Regions from separate parts of the Homo sapiens genome. Here all the other regions are reported to be linked to region 1. The links are microRNA targets in miRTarBase. Many come from high-throughput screens and were not tested one by one. Region 1 holds a microRNA gene; each other region holds the end of a gene's coding sequence.

The links. The annotated mature microRNA hsa-miR-425-5p reads AAUGACACGAUCACUCCCGUUGA and lies in region 1 at 2,669-2,691, shown strand. An mRNA with a match to its seed (bases 2 to 7 or 8) in the 3' UTR can be bound and repressed. Matches are read on the target gene's strand: a 7mer-m8 pairs with bases 2 to 8, a 7mer-A1 pairs with bases 2 to 7 and ends in A, and an 8mer does both.
Region 2: the mRNA of LRP11 is a reported target of hsa-miR-425-5p. Seed matches in the 3' UTR shown: 7mer-A1 at 1,560-1,566.
Region 3: miRTarBase lists PIP4K2A as a target of hsa-miR-425-5p. Seed matches in the 3' UTR shown: 7mer-A1 at 1,932-1,938.
Region 4: miRTarBase lists FAM114A1 as a target of hsa-miR-425-5p. The part of its 3' UTR that is shown has no 7-base or 8-base seed match.
Region 5: the mRNA of BCOR is a reported target of hsa-miR-425-5p. Seed matches in the 3' UTR shown: 8mer at 525-532.

Annotation. Positions count from the first base shown.
Region 1 is chr3:49,018,289-49,022,889 of GRCh38, reverse strand. MIR425 (microRNA 425) reads left to right here and starts at 2,656; the gene lies at 2,656-2,742. NDUFAF3 (NADH:ubiquinone oxidoreductase complex assembly factor 3) reads right to left here and starts at 769. Exons shown (of 5, transcript NM_199069.2): 1 at 669-769; 2 at 352-544; 3 at 122-188; 4 at 1-14. The coding sequence starts at 745. It overlaps MIR191 (microRNA 191), which reads left to right and starts at 2,181; the gene lies at 2,181-2,272. It overlaps DALRD3 (DALR anticodon binding domain containing 3), which reads left to right and starts at 4,310. Exons shown (of 12, transcript NM_001009996.3): 1 at 4,310-4,490; 2 at 4,572-4,601. The coding sequence starts at 4,326. RefSeq lists silencers at 379-428, 489-608, 649-748, 969-1,158, 1,195-1,397 and an enhancer at 913-1,682.
Region 2 is chr6:149,816,907-149,821,507 of GRCh38, reverse strand. LRP11 (LDL receptor related protein 11) reads left to right here. Exons shown (of 7, transcript NM_032832.6): 7 at 805-2,751. The coding sequence ends at 959. It overlaps RAET1E-LRP11 (RAET1E-LRP11 readthrough), which reads left to right. Exons shown (of 15, transcript NR_182438.1): 15 at 805-2,751. Among named protein-coding and RNA genes, the nearest start is that of RAET1E-AS1, 44 kb to the left of the region's middle.
Region 3 is chr10:22,533,326-22,537,926 of GRCh38, reverse strand. PIP4K2A (phosphatidylinositol-5-phosphate 4-kinase type 2 alpha) reads left to right here. Exons shown (of 10, transcript NM_005028.5): 10 at 646-3,073. The coding sequence ends at 726. Among named protein-coding and RNA genes, the nearest start is that of LINC03027, 98 kb to the right of the region's middle.
Region 4 is chr4:38,943,041-38,947,641 of GRCh38, forward strand. FAM114A1 (family with sequence similarity 114 member A1) reads left to right here. Exons shown (of 15, transcript NM_138389.4): 15 at 416-2,699. The coding sequence ends at 517. Among named protein-coding and RNA genes, the nearest start is that of MIR574, 77 kb to the left of the region's middle.
Region 5 is chrX:40,047,998-40,052,579 of GRCh38, reverse strand. It overlaps BCOR (BCL6 corepressor), which reads left to right. Exons shown (of 15, transcript NM_001123385.2): 15 at 180-1,329. The coding sequence ends at 471. Among named protein-coding and RNA genes, the nearest start is that of LINC03053, 41 kb to the right of the region's middle.

The DNA.
Region 1 (4,601 bases):
CACCACCACGATCTCTAGGGAAGGGTGGGTGTGGCTAGTCTACAGTTCTGTTGAGAGGCTGCAGTGGGGGTCGCCTTCTGGGGCCCAGAACACCTCTGTTCTCCCTCCCCTTCCCCAGTACCTATCCGGGGCTCCAGCAACCAGAAGAGGGAAAAGCTGTCTTCGGTGATGTCCTGGTGGGATCCCACCTGTGCAGGGAGGAGGCACATTTAATACGACAAATCCACGCAGCCTCTCCCCATCTCCATCCACTGCAGGAGGAGACAGAGGAAAGCCAAGTTTGCAGGGACCAAGCAGGGTGAGGGCCTGTGACTCTGGGCCTCAGTTTCCACACTGCGGGCCAGGACTCACGTTCCACTGCACCACCGAGTGCGGGAGCAGAGCGCAGGGGCCGAGCACGCGGTTTCCGTTTATCATGAAGCCGCGGCTGTTGTAGCTGTCGATGTACATTGCCTGAGCGGCCTCGCGTTGCAGCAGAGAGATGCGCGTCCGCTGATACAGCTCGTCATCCGCCGGCGAGAGCCGATGCCCTCGCCGCGGGGCCCTGCGGAGGGAAAGGGTCAGGGGCGCGGGGCCGGGCCGGGCAGCCCGAGAGGCCGGAAGGTGCTGGGCTGGCAGTCGCCGGCCCTAGGGGGCTGGATGGTCGAGGGCGCGGGGTCCAAGCTCACCAGGGAAGCTCAACGGGCGGACAGCGCAGCGAGGGTCGCGCTCGGTACAAGCTACGTAGCGCGAGAGCGGTGGCCATGGCTGACCAACGCGCGGCGAAGTCGTCACCGGCGCCGTTAGTCCCCGGGTTGGGAGGGCCCTGCGGAGCCTGACCCAGCGTGGCTGCAGCGCCCCCTGCGTCCCGGAGGGCACCGCACAGCTCGACCGGCCCAGCAGGCGAGTGTCCTCAGTCTTAGGAGGCCGAGTTCCCCGACCTCCGGCGCAGCTCCAGTGTCAGCACCTGCCGCCCTCCCCGCCCCGGGCCCTTGCCCATAGTCCCGGGGGAGTGGAACACCTGGCAGCGTGGCCACCCTCAGGGCGTTGCCTGGGCCGCAGCCGCGGCCTGGCCCCCGGGCTCTCAGCTATTAAGCCGCGCTCCCGGGGCGGGGCGACCGCCCACCTGGTCGCGTCCCGAACACCTGGCCAGGCGGTGGGTGCCAGACTTCTAGCCCCTAATTCCAGCCTTTGGGGCTTCGGGCACCGTGGGCGGGGCAGCCGGCTCAAGTTTCTCCGGCTAGACGCGGAAGCACGCCCCGCCCTAACCGTCACCCGCGCGACCGTTGGCCTCTCCGCAGCGCGCGGAGAGGGGCGTGGCCGAGCGTGGATTGGCTTCTCGGGTTCTCTAGGGGGCGTGGCCAGGTGGTTTCTCCTTAAAATGGCTCCAAGTCTGCAGGCAGCCAGAGCAAGCGGAAGGGCAAGCTGTGATAGTGTTTGGGTGGCTGTTCGGCTGGCCCAGACCAGGCCGAACCGGACCAGACTTGAAGTAGAAGCGCGTGGAGCATCACCTTGTCCTCGTTCACTCTGCTCGCGTCCTGGGAGTCCCCCGTCCCCCGTCTTGATCCAAGTCAAGGGCCTACTGGCGCGAGAGTCGCTGGCCCCCGCGCGGGGTTTGGGCATCTCGGCACGCCGGCTCTGTCGTGGCCTCAGGGGAACATTGTCGCTTTCGCTACCCGCGGGGCCGGGCGAGCGGGAAGCTCGGCACAGTGGGAGCCTGGTGGTGGGTCTCCTGGGGCCGGTCGCAATGGGTTTCCGGGGGTCCCGCGGCTGCTCTGTGGACCCCTTCGGCCCCTGGTGCTCCGGGCGCTGGCAGCGTCACCGGACAAAGGCCACCGAGCGCGGGGGTGTCCCCGAGGTGGACGCGCGGGTTTACTTCCTCTCCGGCCCCACGGGCGCGCTTCCCTCCTGACGGATTCCGAAGCCCGCCCCACCACCGTCACCGCACCAGTGGCCCAGGCTTCGTGGGACCAACAGGGCTAATCCTGCCCCACGGATCTAATCCGGATCGGGACCCGGTCCCAGGGGAGGCCCCCACCTCCCCTTCTATTGTTCTGTGGCCCAGGTGAGCGTCTTGTTCCCTCTAGACTCCGTTTCACAACCTACTCCCGGGTCTTCCTCCTGGGACTGGGGATGGGCGGGTTCTGATGTGGCCCCAGGGCGAGTGACCTGGGGGCAGGAGCTCCCCCGCCCCCCGCCAACGGCTGGACAGCGGGCAACGGAATCCCAAAAGCAGCTGTTGTCTCCAGAGCATTCCAGCTGCGCTTGGATTTCGTCCCCTGCTCTCCTGCCTGAGCAGCGCCCTGGCCCAGATGGGGTGCCCCTGACCCCCAGACATACTTTACTGAGCTGCTTGGGTCTCAGTTCCTCTCAGTTGCGCCCTCAGGCTGGAGGTGATGGGTGTAGACGTGGGAGAGCCGAGGCTGGTGGCCATCTCTGGAACCCTGGGGAGGATTGGCGAGGGAGGGTGGACCCAGGACCTCTGGGTAGGGCTGCAATGGTAGTGACTCCCCCAGGGCTGCCTCAGCCCGCATCTCGCTAAAGATAGCCCTCTTACTTCCTGGGGAAAAACCACCCCAACCGTCTTCGTGGATGAGAGTATCTGAAGTCCTCAGTTTGACTGAGGGTTCCCAACCCTGCTAAGCAGTTGTCTCCAGGTCATGCACCTTCAGAATGGAAAGCGCTTTGGAATGACACGATCACTCCCGTTGAGTGGGCACCCGAGAAGCCATCGGGAATGTCGTGTCCGCCCAGTGCTCTTTCGGCGCCTCCCAGCAGGGCCTCAGCCCTGGCCCAGAAAGGGGCCTTGCCAAGCTTTTCCTGCCCCTGGGTTTCCCTGCTCTCCGGATTTCCCAACTCTCTCTACTGAGTTAGCTTCTCTATTAAAAGGAATGGGGGTGGGGTGGGGGGTGAGTAAGTTACAGTGAAATGAAGACATTTGGGAACCTTTGTGGGAGAAAGAAAAAGACCTTTCCTATTGGTAGAGGAGCAAGATACTCCAACTGAGGCCTATTTTCTATTATGGTCGCATTATTTGGTTGGCCCGTAAATGGCTGTTGCCTAAAACAGGAAGCTTTAAGGATCGTTGTTAAAGCACACCAGGTTAAAGGAGTCACATTAAAAGCTGGTCATTCTGAGCCGGGCGCGGTGGCTCACGCCTGTAATCCCAGCACTTTGGGAGGCCGAGGCAGGCGGATCACCTGAGGTCGGGAGTTCGAGGCTTGACAAACATGGAGAAACCCCGTCTCTATTAAAAATACAAAAGTAGCCGGGCGTGGTGGCGCGTGCCTGTAATCCCAGCTACTTGGGAGACTGAGGCAGGATAATCACTTGAACCCGGGAGGGGGAGGTTGCGGTGAGCCAAGATCACACCACTGTACTCCAGCCTGGGCAACAGGAGCGAAACTCCGTCTCAAAAAAAAAAAAAAAAAGTCTGGTAATTCTGGAAGCCATCATGATGGTTGTGATTTCTCAGGTATCAAGAGAAGAAAACCGCCAACTGTATCAGAGTGCTTATTTATTGGGCATAAAGACCACCCGGGCTGGGTGCAGTGGCTGATGCCTGTAATCCCAGCACTTTCGGAGGCCGAGGCGGGCAGGTCACGAGGTCAGGAGTTCGAGACCAGCCTGGCCAACATGGCGAAACCCCGTCTCTACTAAAAATACAAAAATTAGCCGGGCGTGGTGGCGGGCGCCCGTAATCCCAGCTACTCGGGAGGCTGAGGAGGAGAATCCTGTGAATCCGGGAGGTGGAGGCTGCAGTGAGCCGAGATCGTGCCACTGCACTCCAGCCTGGGAGACAAGAGCAAGACTCCGTCTCAAACAAACAAAAAAACACCCATATCTCAAACGAGAAAATGCTTGCAAATAACCTGAAACCGCGGAACACTATTCTTTTTAAAACGAGATATTTTAAGTAGGTCGTGAAAGTGGCCTTAATGTTATACTGCCTTATTCCAGTGACGAATATTCATCATGTGTAAAATGGGAGAAATGAAATGTTATTAAAACAAACATGTGAGACTTCGATGAGAAGAGACGGTACCCGGTCTAAGCGCCCACCGGGTCGCGAGGATCCTTTTCCTGGTTAAGGCCTGGGTCACAGCGAAAGAACCCTAGGCCCAGGGAGGGCCCCGAGATTTCAGATCCGGGGCCCGGCTGTGCAGGTGGACCACGCGGAAGGGGCGCTGGGGGCGGTAGGTCGAAAGCAGCCGACAGGGCTACCACTGGCGCACCTGTCCACTTACGGGGACCACCGCCGCATCCCCGCCCCAGCTAGTCGGTCCTTTCCGGAAGTTCCACCTCCCTAAATTTTTTTCCGGTTCCGCTTACTCCTTCCGGTCACCATGGCGACCAGGCGCCTTGGGGTCGGGGAGACGCTGGGGGCCCTCAACGCGGCCCTGGGGCCAGGCGGTCCGGTGTGGATCAAGGAGACGCGCACCCGCCACCTGCGTTCCCGAGACTTTCTGGCACCGCACCGCGCGCTGCAGGCGCGCTTCGATGACGGCCAGGTGGGCGTGAGCCGGGCGGGGCCGTGCGGCCGGGAGATGGGCCCCGTGCCGTGGCTCTTTTACACGCCCGTTCTCCCGCAGGTTCCGGAGCATTTGCTCCATGCCCTCGCC
Region 2 (4,601 bases), not on the chromosome of region 1:
AAAGGTTCTACTGACTGAGTCAGTTCCCTGGATTTAGAAGGAAATAAATTTCTTAAGCCCTAACTAGAACAAGAAATCAGGAGTTAGTTCATACTTAGTTGAAGAATGATCATGTATGAATTCATAAATATAGTCAATGACTACAACAAAAAAATTTCGTGATCAGAATGCCTATTTCAGTTGGATATGAGTGATCAGATGGTAGTATGTGTACCCATTGATGCCATACAAATTTTGTAGGAAGCTGGTAGAGAATTTGGTTTTAAAGAGGTCTGTGTTGGCCGGGCACGGTGGCTCACGCCTGTAATCCCAGCACTTTGGGAGGCCGAGGCAGGTGGATCACGAGGTCAGAAGTTTGAGACCAGCCTGGCCAAGATGTTGAAACCCCATCTCTACTAAAAATACAAAATTTAGCTGGGCACAGTGGCAGGCACCTGTAATCCCAGCTACTCGGGAGGCTGAGGCAGGGGAATCGCTTGAACCCAGGAGGTAGAGGTTGCAGTGAGCCGAGATTGAGCCATTACACTCCAGCCTGGGCAACAGAGCAAGACTCCATCTCAAAAAAAAAAAAAAAAAAAAGTCTAGGTTTGGGACCTGAACCTACAACTTACAGCCTCCTAGGCAAATAAGCAAATTACTTAACCTTGGTACACCTTAGTTAATCTGCAAAATAGTGATAATACTAATAACAATTTGTTTGGATTAAATAAAATAGTGCATGCAAAGCGCGTATCATATAGTGACCAGTAGCTGTCACTGTGACTAATCACTGGCTTGCCCTCTTCATGTCTAACCTTCTCAAAGGTGCAGTGCTACCCCTGGCGCTGGGTTTGGCTATCACTGCTCTGCTGCTTCTCATGGTTGCATGCCGACTACGACTGGTGAAACAGAAACTGAAAAAAGCTCGTCCCATTACATCTGAGGAATCGGACTACCTCATAAATGGGATGTATCTATAGTAATGTAATTTCAATACCTTGGGGCAGGGACATGTTTTGTTTATAATTTATACATCTATTAAGTTCTGGATATTTACAGCTTCTTTTGTTTTTAATTGGGCCAGAAGATTCTGCAAATCCCAAATCTTTCTTTATTATTTATTGTAAAAAAAGTTTCCTTAGAAGTCATAAAATATTTTGAAATTTAGAGAGGAATTCATGATTAAAGATTCCTAAAAATATAATTCTGATTTATGTAAGCTGTCCCTGAAAATAGAAATGTGTACTTAGCTGAGAGAAAATTCAGCATCTCAGGAGGTGGTATTAGGATGACTGTGTTAACCCATTACCTTTTAGAAGCCAACTGTTGGCCCCTTACCATGCTGGACTGCTATAGGCCCAGCTTCCCCTTGTTCTGTGGCCCTTTTCTTCCTCCTTGAAGCTCCCAGTATTCTTTTTCTTTTCCCCTCTAAACCTGTTTCTGAGAGTGGATCTCAAGCAAGTTCATGCCTTCAATCAGATGTTACTTAGGGTGGGTATACCTAAATTATAAACCTTATGTACAAGTCAGTAAGCCTTAGGGAAGGTGAGTGTGGGTCCTTCCTAATCCCTCTGACGTCATGTCATATAGGTGGCTGCCTCCTTAGACTGACCTTTGGGAGAAAAAAACCCCAGACTTTGAATTAGTAACAGCTCTAAGATGGTCATGCAGTGAGATAGGAAATCAAGATGGAAGCAGAGAATCTGGCATGCCAAAAACTAACAGAAACTTAGTTGAAGGCAAAGAGAGCAAGGAGAACGTTTAATACTTCATTACATCAAATCAACACTGCTCCATGGTGAGAGCACAGCAACTCATTTATATATATATATATAGGCTTTGTTGATGAAAAACGACAATTGAAGAGAGGACGTTGAGTGGATTCCTGGGTACAGCTTTTGTAAAAATGTCACCATGGCTTTCATCCAATGGAATGAGTCGATGTTTTTTAATGCTATAAAATGTTAGAATGTGCCATCAGCTAATGCCAGGCTTACGTATTTCTAGACCATAAAGCAGTTTTTCACAAATTCATCTTTACAGAAAACCAGCATCTAGCTTAGCATCTTTCCCCTTTTAATTTGTAGGCTTTTAAAGGCAAATCATTCCCACCATCACTTAACGCCGGGATTATACACATTCTAGAAATGATTCTGAGAGGAGTGTATAGTATGGTGCCTATCTACACTCACATGATATTCTTATTCACGTTTTTTTTAACCATAAGTGGCAAATATTTTAAAATATTTGAAAAACACTCCAGAATCTAGTACGCTTTATTTTTAGACTGAACCTAAAGTAGGTTGTTCTTTTAACAAAGGGTTTAATTCGGGTGGGGAATATAACATATCAAAATACATGAACAAATGGAAAGTTACTTCTAGAAAAGCAAAGAAATTGGGTATCATTTTTGTTTCTTGGGAAGCTAATTTTGTTGAATGTTTAGAATTGAGCAAAGATGTAAATTTTTGAAGGGCAGTTTAGAAAAATTAACTTTGTGAATGAACTTAAGATGTCTGTACTCTATATGTGATGCTGTGCAGTTTGTTTTTATATGGAAAGATGTCAACTATAGCCATAACCAATAAAATAAAAACTGATGAGGCATGCAGCTTTCAGCACATCTTTTATACATGAAGAAATTAATTTTGTGTTGCTATGGTGTTGAAATATCCAAGATGTTCTGTATCTATGTAAACATGATTCCTTTAATAAATTGTATTTTATTATTAAGCCTTTTTTTCCTTTTAATATAATCATAAGTTGCTATTATTGACTGAGCTGTTACTGCATTATTTGGATTCAATCATACCAACCCTATTTTACAACGGGGGAAATTGAGTATTAGAGAAAGTGACATGCCCAGGGCCACATAAAGCATACTCGAGGGAAGGAGAATCAAGGTCTACAAAATATTTATATCAGGTAGACTGAATGTGACTTTTAAAAGTGATCTTCTTACCTGTAGATTATCTGATTGAAGGAGTTCTGCATCTAAGACAATGGAAACATAATTTTAAAGGGAAAGGTGTCCACAATTTCTCTCTTAAACATGTTCTTGTGTTTTACATGTCTTTTCCTAAGGCTCACTAACTCCTCCTGAACACTTAAAACTTACTTTTTCCTTTCATTCTTAGTAGATAGCAGCTACTCCTCCAGCCTTCCACAGCATTTTACTGTTTCAAATCAGCTGAGTACCCAATACATTCTCTTCCATAGGAAAATAACAGGATTTTTTTCATCTTGCTCCCAATGACTTCAAAACCTGTGTTCTGGCCCCACAACTCAGTGCCACTCAGCAACACCTCTCTTCAGTTACTGATGGCTGTTCACATGGCCCTTTACTAGATTTTCCTTTGACCCACACATAGAGATGCTCTTTTTCTTTTTTTGGGACCGAGTCTCACTCTGTTGCCCAGGCTGTAGTGCAGTGGCATGATCTCACCTCAGCTCACTGCAACCTCCGCCTCACAGGTTCAAGCAGTTCTCGTGCCTCAGCCTCCGATTAGCTGGGACTACAGGTGTGCGCCACCATGCCCAGCTAATTTTTGTATTTTTTTTAGTAGAGATGGGGTTTCACCATGTTGGCCAGGCTGGTCTCAAGCTCCTGACCTCAGATGATCCACCCGCCTCGGCCTCCCAAAATGCTGGGATTACAGGCGTGAGCCACCATGCCTGGCCGAGATGCATATTTCTATTTCCCTTTCCATTTTGCTGTTCAAGGCCAACTCTGTTGATTACTTCACCTGTGTAAACAAACAGGTGTGCTGTGCCCCAGAACACAAGCCACCATCCTTACCTTCAGATGTTCCCTCAACATCATGTTGATGATGCCTCTTAACACAGCATCTGAGCCTGAGATTCCGTAATTTGGGCTCCTTGTTAAATTCAACTATAGCATCTCAAAACAATTTCATGTTTTGGCTTACTTTCTCAAAATGGATTATGCCACTTTATTCCTAGCAGAATTACTTTAATGTTTTGTTTTCTGGACTCCAGGTTTTCTACAACTTTTCAGATTAAAATTGAATGAGAATTTCTAACAAAGAACTGCCCAAGCTGAATACAAAGAGGGAGAAGCTTAGTTTGCAGTTTGCCATTCACAAATTTCTCGTCTCGTTGGCTTTTTAAGCATCTGTGTTGCAGACTTTTCTGTTCCTGTCCCCATTTTCCGACCTACTGGATTCTAGTATTCTAAAAATAAAATGAATATTTTAAGTTATAGCTACTTTAGTGGATAAACACAGATTCTCCAGCTAAATAGAAAACCACCAAGGACAAAAATAAGGTTCGACATCCCAAAGCTGAATGTTTTTGGGAATTGACTGGTTAGAACTGAGCCTTCTCCTATATTTCCCATATTTAGGTCTAAGCATATCTTCCTTCCTACTTATTTTAATTCTCAAATCACATCAGTTTTTAAAATCTTATGTCATCACCCTGCAAATTGGAAAGAGATCAATTTATAATATTATTCAGCTTAAATCCTTTTATGAAGTTATTTCAAAATTTAGGAAACTTCTCAAAATATTTTAATACAAAAATAATGTTAACTTTTACAAAAATAGCTTAGGGAAATTGGACCAGGTGCAGTGGATCATGCTTGTAATCCCAACACTTCG
Region 3 (4,601 bases), not on the chromosome of region 1:
TGTGTGCTGCTGCAGAGGGAAGTCAGCTCCTTCCCCCGTGGGCAAGATGGAGCCAGCAGTGTTGTGCCTCACCTGGTTACGGTGCAGGGAATGGGCTGGGGGCAGCTGTCCCAGAACCTGTGGCTGCTGCTGTTGCCCCTCATGTTTGAGCACTGAGCTGGGGGCCTCTGTCCAGAAACGAAGGGGTCCTGAAGAAATCATGCGGTTTTAAGTCATCGTCATTAAGGTTTCCCTTTCGCCAAATGTTGATGTCATTCTCAAGGTGGCTCCAGTCTGCCTTCTTGAAAAGTATAACATAAGTATTGTTTCCGTGACTTCTGAACAATTCCACTCTTTGATAGTAACATCCCAAACGTGGCCTGTTTGATTTTTTTGTGAGTTGCAACAGCCCCGGTGTGTGTGGTAGCATCTGGTGCTCCTGTCGCCCTTTGTCTCATTTGCAGACACAGATTTGTAAGAACCTTGCTTATTCAACCATGAGCGCCAAGATATTTTGAGTGATGTTTTTCAGAGCAGAGACTGCATGGATTTGAAAATTGCTTGCTGTATATTCAGTTGCCATTGGAAATAGCTGTAGATATTGAGTAATAATTTGGGGAAATCATAAACACTATGTCAATATTTCCTTTTTTAAAAACTGCCCAGGCTGGCGCGGAGATCTCCACCGTGAACCCAGAACAGTATTCAAAGCGCTTTTTGGACTTTATTGGCCACATCTTGACGTAACCTCCTGCGCAGCCTCGGACAGACATGAACATTGGATGGACAGAGGTGGCTTCGGTGTAGGAAAAATGAAAACCAAACTCAGTGAAGTACTCATCTTGCAGGAAGCAAACCTCCTTGTTTACATCTTCAGGCCAAGATGACTGATTTGGGGGCTACTCGCTTTACAGCTACCTGATTTTCCCAGCATCGTTCTAGCTATTTCTGACTTTGTGTATATGTGTGTGTGTGTGTGTTGGGGGGGGGTGAGTGTGTGCGCGCGTGTGCATTTTAAAAGTCATAAATTAATTAAAACAGATCCACTTCGGTCAGTATGTGTCCCAACAAAGACCCTTTGATTCCAGCTATGGCCGAATGAATGAGTGAGTGAGTGAGTGAGTGAATGAACACACGTGTGGGGGAGGGGAGAAGGAAGTGCATGATGTCAGGCACCGTGTTGGCATCACACAACAAACTGTGGATCAGTTTTTTTTTTTTTTTTTTTTTTTTGGAGTTGAAAGATGTGAGACAGTATTCAGAATAATGAAGATAATAATGATGATTATTATAATAATGATGATGATTCCAAGGAAAAAACCTACAGCGAATGTTCCATTTCTACCCCGCACGCAGACACTCTCCCTAACACTGATAACCTGAGCCCCCAGCACTGGACGGAAGAATGCTGGCGTCTCCGTGTGTACTGGTTCAGGGTTCTGGCCCCAGCCTTGTCAGGACCCCCTGGTGTCCAGAGCCCCCACCCCTCCCGCAACAAGCAGCTGATGCCCCAGTGATTCTCTATACATTTTTCACCTCGGCCAATATGTCCAGGAAAACTGCTTACTTCTCTTTTCTTGCCTGGAGCCTTCATTGTTCACCCTTACGTTGCAATATAGGAATTAATGCTACAAAATAAAAGTAAAGCTTACCTGAAAAGTGCATAGTTTGGGGCAATGGTATCTACATCTCCCACTGTGGGAAAACCAGCAAAGCATCAAAACTCTCAATTCTCCTGTTACCAAATGCAGATCTGAATTATAAGATGTTTATGTTTGACCATTGTTTCAACAATGGGATTTTGTTACGAATTATCCCTTTAACTGAAACCCTCAGTTTTACTGTTTACATTATTAGGAAAACAGGGATATCTTTTGAATCTAAAAATTTGATGTACAGCATGTGATTTTTGAAGTTTACATGTAAAGTCACAGTATAGGTGAAATAACGTTTGTCATATTTTGAGACGTATCCTGCAGCCATGTTTTTACGTGAGTGTTTTAGTCAAAGTACATGGTAGACAGTCTTTCACAATAAAAGGAAAAGGATTTTTTTTTCCTCCAAATGTACATTTATCAACCTAATGATTGATTTTTTTAAAAAGAGATTTCGCCCCAGTCTGGTTTATGAAAGTTCATTGCCCTAAACTGTGCTGATTGTTTTTAATCAAGTTATAAATTTCCAACCTAGATCATGTATCTACCAACTCTCCTGCATTTTCCAAAAGGCATTGAGCTTAAATATTAGTCTTGCTTAGAGTAGGTTATCCACTTACATGCTGCGCTAAAGCCATGCCTTTGAAACTCCTTGTTTAAAACATGATATGATTTTTGTGGGCAGTTTCAGAAAAGAAAACAAACAAACAAAAATCGACCCTTTAATTATTACTTGCAACTCAACAGATCTCCCTGCCGTACTGCCTTTTCCAGGAACTTTACTTCAGGGCTGTCCAGATTGCAGCTGTGCCCCGTGTATGTGGATCTAGTTCACAGAGTCTTTGGAAGCCAGCAGTCGTGCCCTCCGTATACTGTCCACTCATTTTATGTAGATTTGGTATCCTCAGCAGCCAGTGTTAACACCACTGTCACGTAGTGTACAGATTCATCTTTTATGTATTTAAAGTAATCCATACTATGATTTGGTTTTTCCCTGCACCATTAATTCTGGCATCAGATCAGTTTTTGTGTTGTGAAGTTCTACTGTGGTTTGACCCAAGACCACAACCATGAGACCCTGAAGTAAAGATAAGGTACACATACATTATTTGAGTAACTGTTTCCTTGGGGGCCAATCTGTGTATGCTTTTAGAAGTTTACAGAATGCTTTTATTTTTGTCTATAACAAACAGTCTGTCATTTATTTCTGTTGATAAACCATTTGGACAGAGTGAGGACGTTTGCCCTGTTATCTCCTAGTGCTAACAATACACTCCAGTCATGAGCCGGGCTTTACAAATAAAGCACTTTTGATGACTCACAAGATGAATCCTTTTTTCCTCTGTCCCAATTGTGTGTCTCTGTTCCAAACACATTTTAAATACTCGGTCCTGACAGTGTCTTTAGCTAATCCTTGAAGAAATGAAAGTGGAATTGAATCTTTTTAGTTTCTAGAGCCTTGCCTTCAGTTTGGGAATTATTTTATCAGTAATAACAAACTTCCACAACACAATTGACTTTGCCGCAAGATGAACAAGTAGAGGAAAAGAATCTCTTCCATGAACATCCTATAAAGTCATATGTTTTGTTTTTAGCTTTGATACACCTTAATTCTATGTGTATCACCATTTTTTGAAACTTCCTTGGGATACCATTGATGGATAGCAGACTTAACGGCATTCCACTTGGTGCCAGGTTAACACAGACAGCTTGTCTATAGCACTTGCTCTGATAACTCATTTTTCTTCTAATGCAACTGATGTATTATAGCAGGGGTCCCCAAACCCCGGGCCACGGACCGGTACTAGTCCATGGCCTGTTAGGAACCTGGCTGCACAGCAGGAGGTGAGCAGCTGGCCAGCATTACCGCCTATGCCCCGCCTCTTTCAGATCAGCAGCAGCATTAGATTCTCATAGGAGCGCGAACCCTATTGTGAACTGCACATGGGAGGAATCTAGGTTGAGCACTCTTTATGTGAATCTAACTAATGTCTGATGATCTGAGGTGGAACAGTTTCTTCCTAAAACCATCTCCTCAGCCCCCTGCCAGTCCGTGGAAAAACTGTCTTCCACAAAACCAGCCCCTGGCACCAAAAAGATTGGGGACCACCATATTAGAGAATAATTTGAGCATAATGCACTTGTCACATTGCTTGTGTGCCGTTTGGTCTGCAAGGAACATTAGGTGAATGCAGAGAACTGCACTCAACTGAGCTGCATAGGGAAACACAACACACCGACACTTCAAACATCTCCAGCACCTCACTTCAGTGCATGTGATTTGTTACACTCGTTCATATCTGGAGTTACACGTTTCCACCTGACATCAGATCACCTTTCTCCTCTTTACAATAACCCAAGAGCTGCCATCCTTCTGATGCCCACAACCACAGGCGTGCCTTACATCTTTTTCAAGGTAACTTGCCCTGTTTTTATATTTTGAATATTTCCTAACCAGTTAGCGTTTTTATAATTGTGCTACTGTTTTTATTAGATTTCTTTTTCTTTTCAGTGTGTGACTCATTACATTTTGGGATGTTGTGGCCCTAGTTTCATTTTTCCCAGAAGTTCTGTGATTTCCATTGTGCAGCTTTGCCTAAAGCAGTGATTTCTAGGAACATACATGTTGCATTATTGTAGAATTGACTGTGGTCAGCAGGGAGCTTTAATTCAATGTTCTTTGTGGACTGTTTGAATGTGGACATTCATTTTCCCTTCATTTTGGTTAAGTTCCTGGATTAGAATCCACAATAGTTCCAGAAGGTTATTTCTAATTCATGGAAGGGCAAAAGTTGGTATGAAGCATTAATCCTGAGCACAACACTTTTAAAAACAGTGGTTAAGAGTTAAGTGCAAGAGATTACAAACTATATGTTGTGAAATGGTGATGTATATAGTGTGCAAATGTACACAGGCCGAGAGGCTGAACAAAGACTCAGGACCGCTGCACACAACCTTTCTTGGAAT
Region 4 (4,601 bases), not on the chromosome of region 1:
AAATTAGCTGGGCGTGGTGGTGCACGCCCGTAGTCCCAGCTACTCGAGAGGCTGAAGCAGGGGAATTGCTTGAACCTGGGAGGCGGAAGTTGCAGTGAGCCAAGATCGTGCCTCTGCACTCCAGCCTGACGTCAGAGCAAGACTCTGTCTCAAAAAAAAAAAAAAAAAAAAATTCCATGAAAATGATTTGCCTCATTTTGAGTGAATTATTCTCTCTGTTAGTATAGATAATTGAGAGCTGGACATGCCCCATCCAAAAGCATGTGTTTACACTTGCTTTAAGCACCAATATTGCAAGATAAATATAATCCAATATGGGGGGTGGGTTGAAGAGTGGGAACATTATCCAATTGGAAGTATTGTCAAGGTTGAACTATGAAAATAACCCTTCAACCTCATTTTTCTCCTCTCACAGGGCTGCAACAGTACAACGTACATACAGGATGCCTTCCAGCTGCTGCTGCCTGTTCTGCAGGTCTCACATATCCAGACCAGTTGTTTGAAAGCACAGCCGTGACCTGGCCAGACTCCATCTAGTTAAAGGAGACAGCTGGCCGCCTTGCCTCAATATGTACCATTTAAGGGGATGTTCTCTGTGCGCCTGGCCACAGACATCCATTTGAGGACACTACAAGCAATTTTGCACAGACAATATTGAGAATGCAAATTTAGAGAGAGTTATCATTTCTCTCAATGTGTATAATTGTTTTTACAAACAATTGTGTTTTCTTTATGTTAATTTAAACTTACACAGCTTATATTGAAAATTTCCTTTCATCTGAAATTTATTTACAAATATTCGTGTTCATTTTCCTGGTTAAGCATGCTATATTTAGAAACTCATGGGGAGACCTTAGACTTTTGTTTAATCCTTTATGTTTCAACCTTTAAATGTTCCATTCTTATAGTATTACTTTAAATCAATTCTAAAACTGAACTTTGTTTTGTTACATAAATGTCGCAGGCAAAAATAACACTACTTATAGATTTTACCTATTATGGTAAAAAATAGGAACATATTGTCATTCTTTTTTTTTTTTTTTTTTTGAGACAGAGTCTCACTCTGTCGCCAGGCTGGAGTGCGTTGGCACAATCTCGGCTCACTGCAACCTCCGCCTCCTGGGTTCAATCGATTCTCCTGCCTCAGCCTCCTGAGTAGCTGGGACTACAGGTGTGTGCCACCACGCCCAGCCAATTTTTTTTGTATTTTTAGTAGAGACAGGGTTTCACCATGTTGGCCAGGATGGTCTCGATCTCCTGACCTCGTGATCTGCCCGCCTCAGCCTCCCAAAGTGCTGGGATTACAGGCTTGAGCCACCGCGCCCGGCCGGTCATTCATTCTTGCAACAAGCATTTATTGAGCACCTACTGTGTGCTCACAGTAAAGAAACGTGATCTTATCCCAGTAGAGGTAGATATTCTGAAAAAGAATAATTCTTAAACTGCTTAAAACAGGGGTCCCCACCCCCAGGCCACAGACCAGTACCAGTCCGTGGCACTGGTTAGGAACCAGGCCACACAGCAGGGGGTGAGCGGTGGGTGAGTGAGCACAGCTTCATCTGTATTTACAGCTGCTCCCCAGAGCTTGCATTACTGCCTGAGCTCTGCCTCCCGTCAGGTCAGCAGCAGCATTAGAGTCTCATGGGAGTGCGAACCCTGTTGTGAACTGCACATGCGAGGGATCTAGGTTGTGCACTCCTTATGAGAATCTAATGCCTGATGAATCTAATGCCTCATGATCTGAGGTTGAATAGCTTCGTGCCGAAACCATCCCCCACCCCCATCCCGCTACCCCGAGTCCGTGAAAAAATTGTCTTCCATGAAACCGGTCCCTGGTACCAGAAAGGTTGGGGACCACTGGCTTAAAATACCAATAAATTTTTGAACCTTAAAAACTTTGAAGAACAAGGTAAATTGGTGTTTTATTTAATGTCCTACCCTTTAATTTGTTGCATTTTCCTATACTCTTTACACTATTTTATCCCAAACTATGTATATGAGGTGAAAATATATATGAAAAGGGATACTGAAGAATATTTAGTTTAAAATTAATTTCTTACGATCACGAGCACATGGTGGCATAATTACAAAGCTTGGAAGTATTCAAATAGAAAATCAAAGGTGTTTCAATACAGTAGAATCCCAGGACTGCATTTTAAAATCGCCTCACAGATCACACTCGCTGGTGGCAAATATCATCATCGTTGCTAAAGGACAGAAAATACTGATGTGTGTTTTAACTAACTGGTATATTGATCCATGGGAGGCTGCACAGAAGACCCTGCGGCCAGGAGGGGCATTGTCAGTGGCTGCTTCTCCTGAGCTCCACGCCTTCATTGCAGCTGCATGTTCGATACAATACACCTGCTTCACAGCCCCATGGACATCCCTACAGGTACTGTCATGTGAAGCCTTGCCTAGTAGTTCTCTCCAGGGCAAATGAAGCTCACAGTTTTGCAAGGTGGAAACCTCTTATTCACATTTGCTTTGATTCCCCGATGGAGTAGACTGCCTTTGTTCCATACAGGCAAAGTAAGGATATTTTAATATCATCCTACTTCTTATTAGCATTTCATTTGTCTATGTACTGTATTTCATTTGTATGTCTCCTGAAACATCCAAATAGAGAACATAAGAACACTTTATGTACAATCTGGAAAAAAATTACCTGAGAAATCAATTAAAGATTTTTCCCCTTTTCTGATTGCCAGAAATGTTTTTATTAAGTCTAGAGAATGATTAACTGATGAAAATGTTGCATTTACCTCTTCATCAATTTTAGACTTTTTATGTGTAGGGCAGAGGAAATGATATAGATTTACAATTTCTTCACATCAGTTTTTTGTTGTTTTTTGTTGTTTTGTTTTTTGCATCAGATGGGTTTAGATATTAAGTGGAAATGTAAAAGAGAAACAAGTGGCAGGGCTCAGTGGCTCACACCTGTAATCCCAGCACTTTGGGAGGCTGAGGTGGGCGGATTACCTGAGGTCAGGAGTTCGAGAGCAGCCTGGCAGACATGGTAAAACCCTGTCTCCACTAAAAATACAAAAAAATTAGCCGGATGTGGTGGGTCGCGCCTGTAGTCCCAGCTACTCGGGAGGCTGAGGCAGGAGAATCGTTTGAGCCTGGCTGGCAGAGGTTGCAGTGAGCCAAGATACACCACTGCACTCCAGTCTGGGCGGCAGAGGGAGATCCCGTCTCAATTAAAAAAATAAAAAGAGAGAAAAAAAGAGAAACAAGTATTTCTCAAGGAGCTAGAATCCTAGACTTAGACTTTAAGCCTAACTGCACCTGTGTAGTGCGTGCATAGCAAAAACTTTAATGATAAAATGAAATATAAATGTTTAAAAGAATAAGAGATAATCATTCAAAAAGAAGTGGTTGGTGTCATTGGCATTGCACTTATCTTCTAATGCTGGAATGCCTAAGGTTGCCAGGTGAAGACAGGCTGAGAGATGATTCCCTGGGCCTAGTTCCATAGTCTGTGAATTACATTATTTAAGAGAGAATAATCACTTAAAATAGATCCACCTTCCAGGATTTCTTACAATACTGTTTTTCACCACCACTTTTAGGTAATTGTTTCTTTGCTTTGCTTTAAAATCTGGCAAAGCGCAGGATCCAGATCTGTGCAAATGTCAGTCAGTTACTAAATGAATGATTTAACAGGCTTACCTTGGAAGTTTTTTATTCCTTCAATAATGCTTTACATAAATTGCATTCATTTCATTCTATGCAATTACCCTGAACAAGCGTGCCAGTTTTTTCTCTTAACATCAAGTGCAAAATCAGTTCTAGTCTAAATAATGAATGTAGGCCTGTGCCTGTGCCTTATTAAATAAGAAGCATCAAAAGCGGATCTCAAAATCAAAGTAAAATGAGTTCAAGAAAAACTGCTTTCAGGTATTGATATAGACAGATCGAAAGGGCAAAATTGAGTCCCAAATCTTAAAGCATAGGCCTTAGCTTAAATATTATACCCAACCAAGAAGAGAAGGCTCTGTTTTCTCTGAGTGTCACCCTGGGCTGCACATCAAGCTCATAGCTAAATGAGCAGTGTGATGAGCTGAGGCCCTGGCAGGGGTGAGTGAGGATGTGCTACAGCCTCAGCAATACCAGCTAAGGAACTATGGACCTCAGATGAGGGCTCAAAGGGGTTGAAGGAAGTTCAGCCTTCGGCAGGCTGAAGTAAAGTGCTGAATACAAGGTAGGGGCCTGAATAGGGAAATAAGAGAGTTCCTTTGCGGTTTGTAGAAATTAGCTTCCCCAAGGTGCTCAGATACCTGGGAAGTCACCTTCTGCACAGGCGGGCCATGGTGTTTTCATGTTAGAAATAAAGGCAGACAGATTCCAATCATAGCCATCCCGGAGGTCCAGGATATAACATCTCAGGAAAGCAATTTAGCAACAATTTGAAATGAACATTTAATTTCTCATCTTTCCTAAAAACGTGTGTGTGTGTGTGTGTGTGTGTGTTGAACAGATGGGGTTGATCATAATACATGACTTCAAATGATTTAATTTTTTATAAAAGCAATTATTTTTCAGGGTTAAGCTAGTTTTTTCTATAATGTAAAAACTGCCCTTTGATCTTCCTCCTA
Region 5 (4,582 bases), not on the chromosome of region 1:
AAAAAAAAAAAAAAAAAAAAAAAATGGTGATCAGAGAGTAGGTATGGTGAGAAATGAGGGGTGGGAGCAGAATGAAAGGACATAGAGGCTGGTCCACTTGGGTTGGTAGTTAATATTAATAGTTGGGCGCACTTTTCATTTTACTGGAAACTCAAAGCATTTTCCTTTCTGTTTTGTAGGCCACGAAACTGGCTACTGCTTTCGGATGTCCTTAAGAAATTGAAAATGTCCTCCCGCATATTTCGCTGCAATTTTCCAAACGTGGAAATTGTCACCATTGCAGAGGCAGAATTTTATCGGCAGGTTTCTGCAAGTCTCTTGTTCTCTTGCTCCAAAGACCTGGAAGCCTTCAACCCTGAAAGTAAGGAGCTGTTAGATCTGGTGGAATTCACGAACGAAATTCAGACTCTGCTGGGCTCCTCTGTAGAGTGGCTCCACCCCAGTGATCTGGCCTCAGACAACTACTGGTGAGCAAGCTGGACCCACCATGTACAGTGTGTTATAGTGTTAATCCTTGTGCATATGTGTCATAATACAACTATTTCTGTAAAGAAAGGACACTATTACATATGAAAATATCTCTTCTTTATATAAGAGAAATTACTCCAGTCAGAAGGACTTAGAAACATGTTTTTTTCCTTTTAAACTTTTAAGTCAGTTTTTATGAAGTTGTTATAATGTTTCTTTACTTTTCAATGCACACATGCTTTGGGATACGTTTGTTTTTACTTGGAACATTTGTTTCTTTTCTTTTTTAAGGAGAAAAAAAAATGAGTAAAAGGAGCTCCACACTTTGACTTAATTTCATACAAAGCTCTGATGACAGGCCATGACTGTAGAGTGGTCAGAACTGTGTGGTTGGTTTGAGGGAGCGAATTCGGGGAAGGCACTTGGTGATATAACTTTGTTTTGTTTACAGAGTACCTGCTCGGGCCAGGTAAATGCTATTGGATGTAATCCAGTAGTGTGTAATATAAATTCAAACCATATCCACACACAACAACTAATTGTATGAAACTTTTATATCCTAATTTAAAAGCTGTGAAATTAGTTTTCACGCATCAAACCGGATTGTTTATATGTTTAAACATTTTATGCTCTTATTTAAAGAAGACTTTGAGCTATTTTTTTCTGTACCCTGTAAAATATTGAAAACTAACATAATATGTTGAGGTTGCTTGGAAATGTACATAAAACTAAAATTTTCTGAATCGTGTGTTTATGTTTGAAATCTGTGTTTTAACTTTGTAAGTAAATTCTCTGCCTTTGTATTTATATTTTACAAAAATTTTCTTAAAAGGCAATAAAACTGTTGAGGAAAGGAGAAAATTGAAGTACCTTGTGTCCCATGTATTCCTAAAGCATTATTGTTGTCCCTGATTCTTCTTAAATGGTGCTGGTGATGTATTCCCTATAGATAACTTTAGAGCAATTTATAGTCTCTGGAAACCAAAGCAGACTGGAGGATTTTGGAGGAGTTATACTCAGAATATAATTTGGAGTCCTATTCTGAAAGCCCAATTCTTGGACATATTTCCTGTCTCTTAGAACCTTCTCTTTCCTGTCTCCTTTGATGCTTATGGAGGCTTTTGCACTGCCTTTGGCCTTGACCTATTTCAGTCCCACGTCATGGCCAACTCTCTAGGAGTGTTTTTTCTGAAGCTAGGCATTTGTTATGTCACTTCTGCAGCCCTTCTGTTGCATGGCCTGAGAGTCAAGGCCTGTAGAGCCAGCCTTTCCTCTGTTCTTGACTTTTCCCAGCAGTATCTGCACTGGGCACTATCAGTTGGCCCTTGATTTCCATCTCACTTGCTTTTGTGCCTGTCCTTCACTATAGAGGCTAGAAAGCTGAAAACTACTTGACTCCCTTGCAGCTAGCTTTCTGAGTGCATATTCTGTTTGGAGGGCAGCATGAGGTAGGGGCACCTTCCTACTATAGTGGCTGCGGATAGGAAAATTTGAAGAGAATGCCAGCCAGTTGGAATGACTGACCAGCATTCCAGTGTCTGGTTTTCAGCTTGGTGGGTGATGAGATACAGTAGTGGTTGTGGCAGTGGCAGCTTTCTAATTCTTGGATGACAGCCTCAGCAGATTGTTCGTGAACCCTGTGGATCCAGAGTTGTCCCTGACTCCTGTTCCCCCAGCCCTTCCAAAGACCTTATTCATCTGGGTCCTTGTGTCAAATCCATTTGTGCACCGAATGCCCTCAGTGCTTTCTGATCCTGCATGGAACACTAGGACTGCGAAAGCAGAGGAAAGAGGCTGTGGGGACACTGTATTTGTCAGGCCAGCAAACACTGTGGAAGAAAAAAAAGGAAAAGTGAGGCATTGTTGGGAATGAAGAAATTCCATGTGAGGAATGCAAGAGCCCTTTTTGGGGGAAGGTTGGCTACGAATGAAGTTTGGAGTGTATCTTGAAGACAAAAGGCAGCCTACCATCTTATTTACTAATTTTTCTGATATTAGAAAATGTATACCTTATTTAAAAAACCCAATCATGTCAGAAATAGACACGTTTCCTATTATCCCCTCCCCTCCCCCACCCATGTTAACCACTATTAACAGTTTACTTAGTTTTTGTTTTACAGGAAGTCCCCTCAAATAGCTAGGGGGAGTGTTGAAGGGAAAAAAACAGACGACAAGACCAGTAAAACAGACCTGTAGAAATGATTTAAGCAGAAGAGGACTGGTGAAGCTGAACTACCATCAAAGCTACGAGAGATCCTACACACCCAGATTTAAAAAATAATAAAAACTTAAGGGCATCCGGCTCTTTGTATTGGGGTTGGAGGCAAAGGGGGAGCCCAAGGCCAACTGAGATTTTTATCTTGGATGAAGGTCATTCTGTTAATTAAGCTAGGAAAACAGGTGAGAGCCACAAGGTTAGGGTGTGCAGAAGAAGCAGCTTGGTGCAGGAGACATTTAAGGCTGTGGTTCATGCAGTTGGAGGAGCTAGTAGTCAGAACAGTTAGTGCAAGAACTGTCAGGGTGGTTGGAAACATGGACGTAGAACTGACTGGGGGTATAGATGAGATCCCCATGGCTGAGAAAGGTTTGGATGTAGAGCAATGCCCCACCCCTGCTCAGGAACTCCCCATGGGTAATAGAGCTCACCATGAACATAGAGTGGGCCACAGGTATGGGCCAGATCACACTCCACAGGGAGAGGGACGCGTCACCAGAAGGTAGGGGAGCTTATTGTGTGTTGAGAGGAACTCAGCATGGGTGTTCAAGTGCTCACCACAGGTTTGGAGCAATCATGATCTAAGGTCACCTCGGGCGTTGAAGAGCTCTCCACAGGCAAAGATGTTAACACAGGTGTAAGTGAGATCCCACTGCAGGTAGAGTGCCCATTCCAGTAGAACTCCTCCTGGGGGGAAGGGAGTGGGTGTAGAAGACACCACAGGCATAGATGAGATCGTATTGGCCGTATAGAAACACCATGGGTTTAGAAGAGCTCACCAGAGGTACAGAGCAGACCTTTATAGGCCCTCATTTGGGTGTCCAGGAACCCACCAGCAACATAGAAGAGTTTCCATGAAGGTCAACATGAGTGCAGTGGAGCTCACCACGGGTAGACAGCAGAAGTGGTTCATTCCAATTCTGAAGGTGTCCCTTAGGATCAGGACATGCTTTCCTTTGCCCTGTCCTCCCTCTTCCTGGCTAGAATGTGGCTGCTCTAGCTATAGCTGTCACAACCACCTTGGACCATGAAGTATCGAAGTCGAGCACTGCTGGACAAGTTTGAAGGAGCATGGGTCTTTGAGAATCTCCTGGAACCAAGCCACCATACCAGCCCTACCCTACCTGCCATTTACGTTAATTGATGTAATAGCAAAACACCCAAATCTCCATCAGTTGGGCACTGGTCGAGTTAACAATGGTACACCCACACAGTGGAATACTATGCAACTGGAAAAAGAATTGAGGAATAGTTCCCTAACTTGCTTTAGAGTGGTCTTCCAATTATTATTATTTTATTTTATTATTTATTATTATTATTTTTTGAGACAGTCTTGCTCTGTTGCCCAGACTTGGAGTGCAGTGGTACAACCTCTGCTCACTGCAACCTCTGCCCACTGCAACCTCTGCCTCCTGGGTTCAGGCAATTCTCCTGCCTCAGCCTCCCAAGTAGCTGGAATTATAGGCACCCGCCACCATGCCCAGCTAATTTTTATGTTTTTAGTAGAGACAGGGTTTTACCATGTTGGCCAGGCTAGTCCTGAACTCCTGGTCTCAGGTGATCCACCCAGCCTCAGCCTCCCAAAGTGCCAGGATTACAGGCGTGAGCTACCATGCCTGGCCTATTTATTTTTTTGAGACAGGGTCTCGTCTCGCTCTTGCCCAAGCTGGAGTGCAGTGGTACAATCATGGCTCACCACCGCCTCAACTCCCCAGGCTCAAGCAATCCTCCTGCCTCACCCTCCTGAATAGCTGGGACTACAGACAAGCACCACCATTCTGGGGTAATTATTTTGTTTTTTTGGAGAGATGGGAGACTTGCTGTGTTGGCCAGGCTGTTCTCCTGAGCTGAAGCGATCCACCCACCTTGGCCTCCCAAAGTGCTGGGATTACAGGAGTG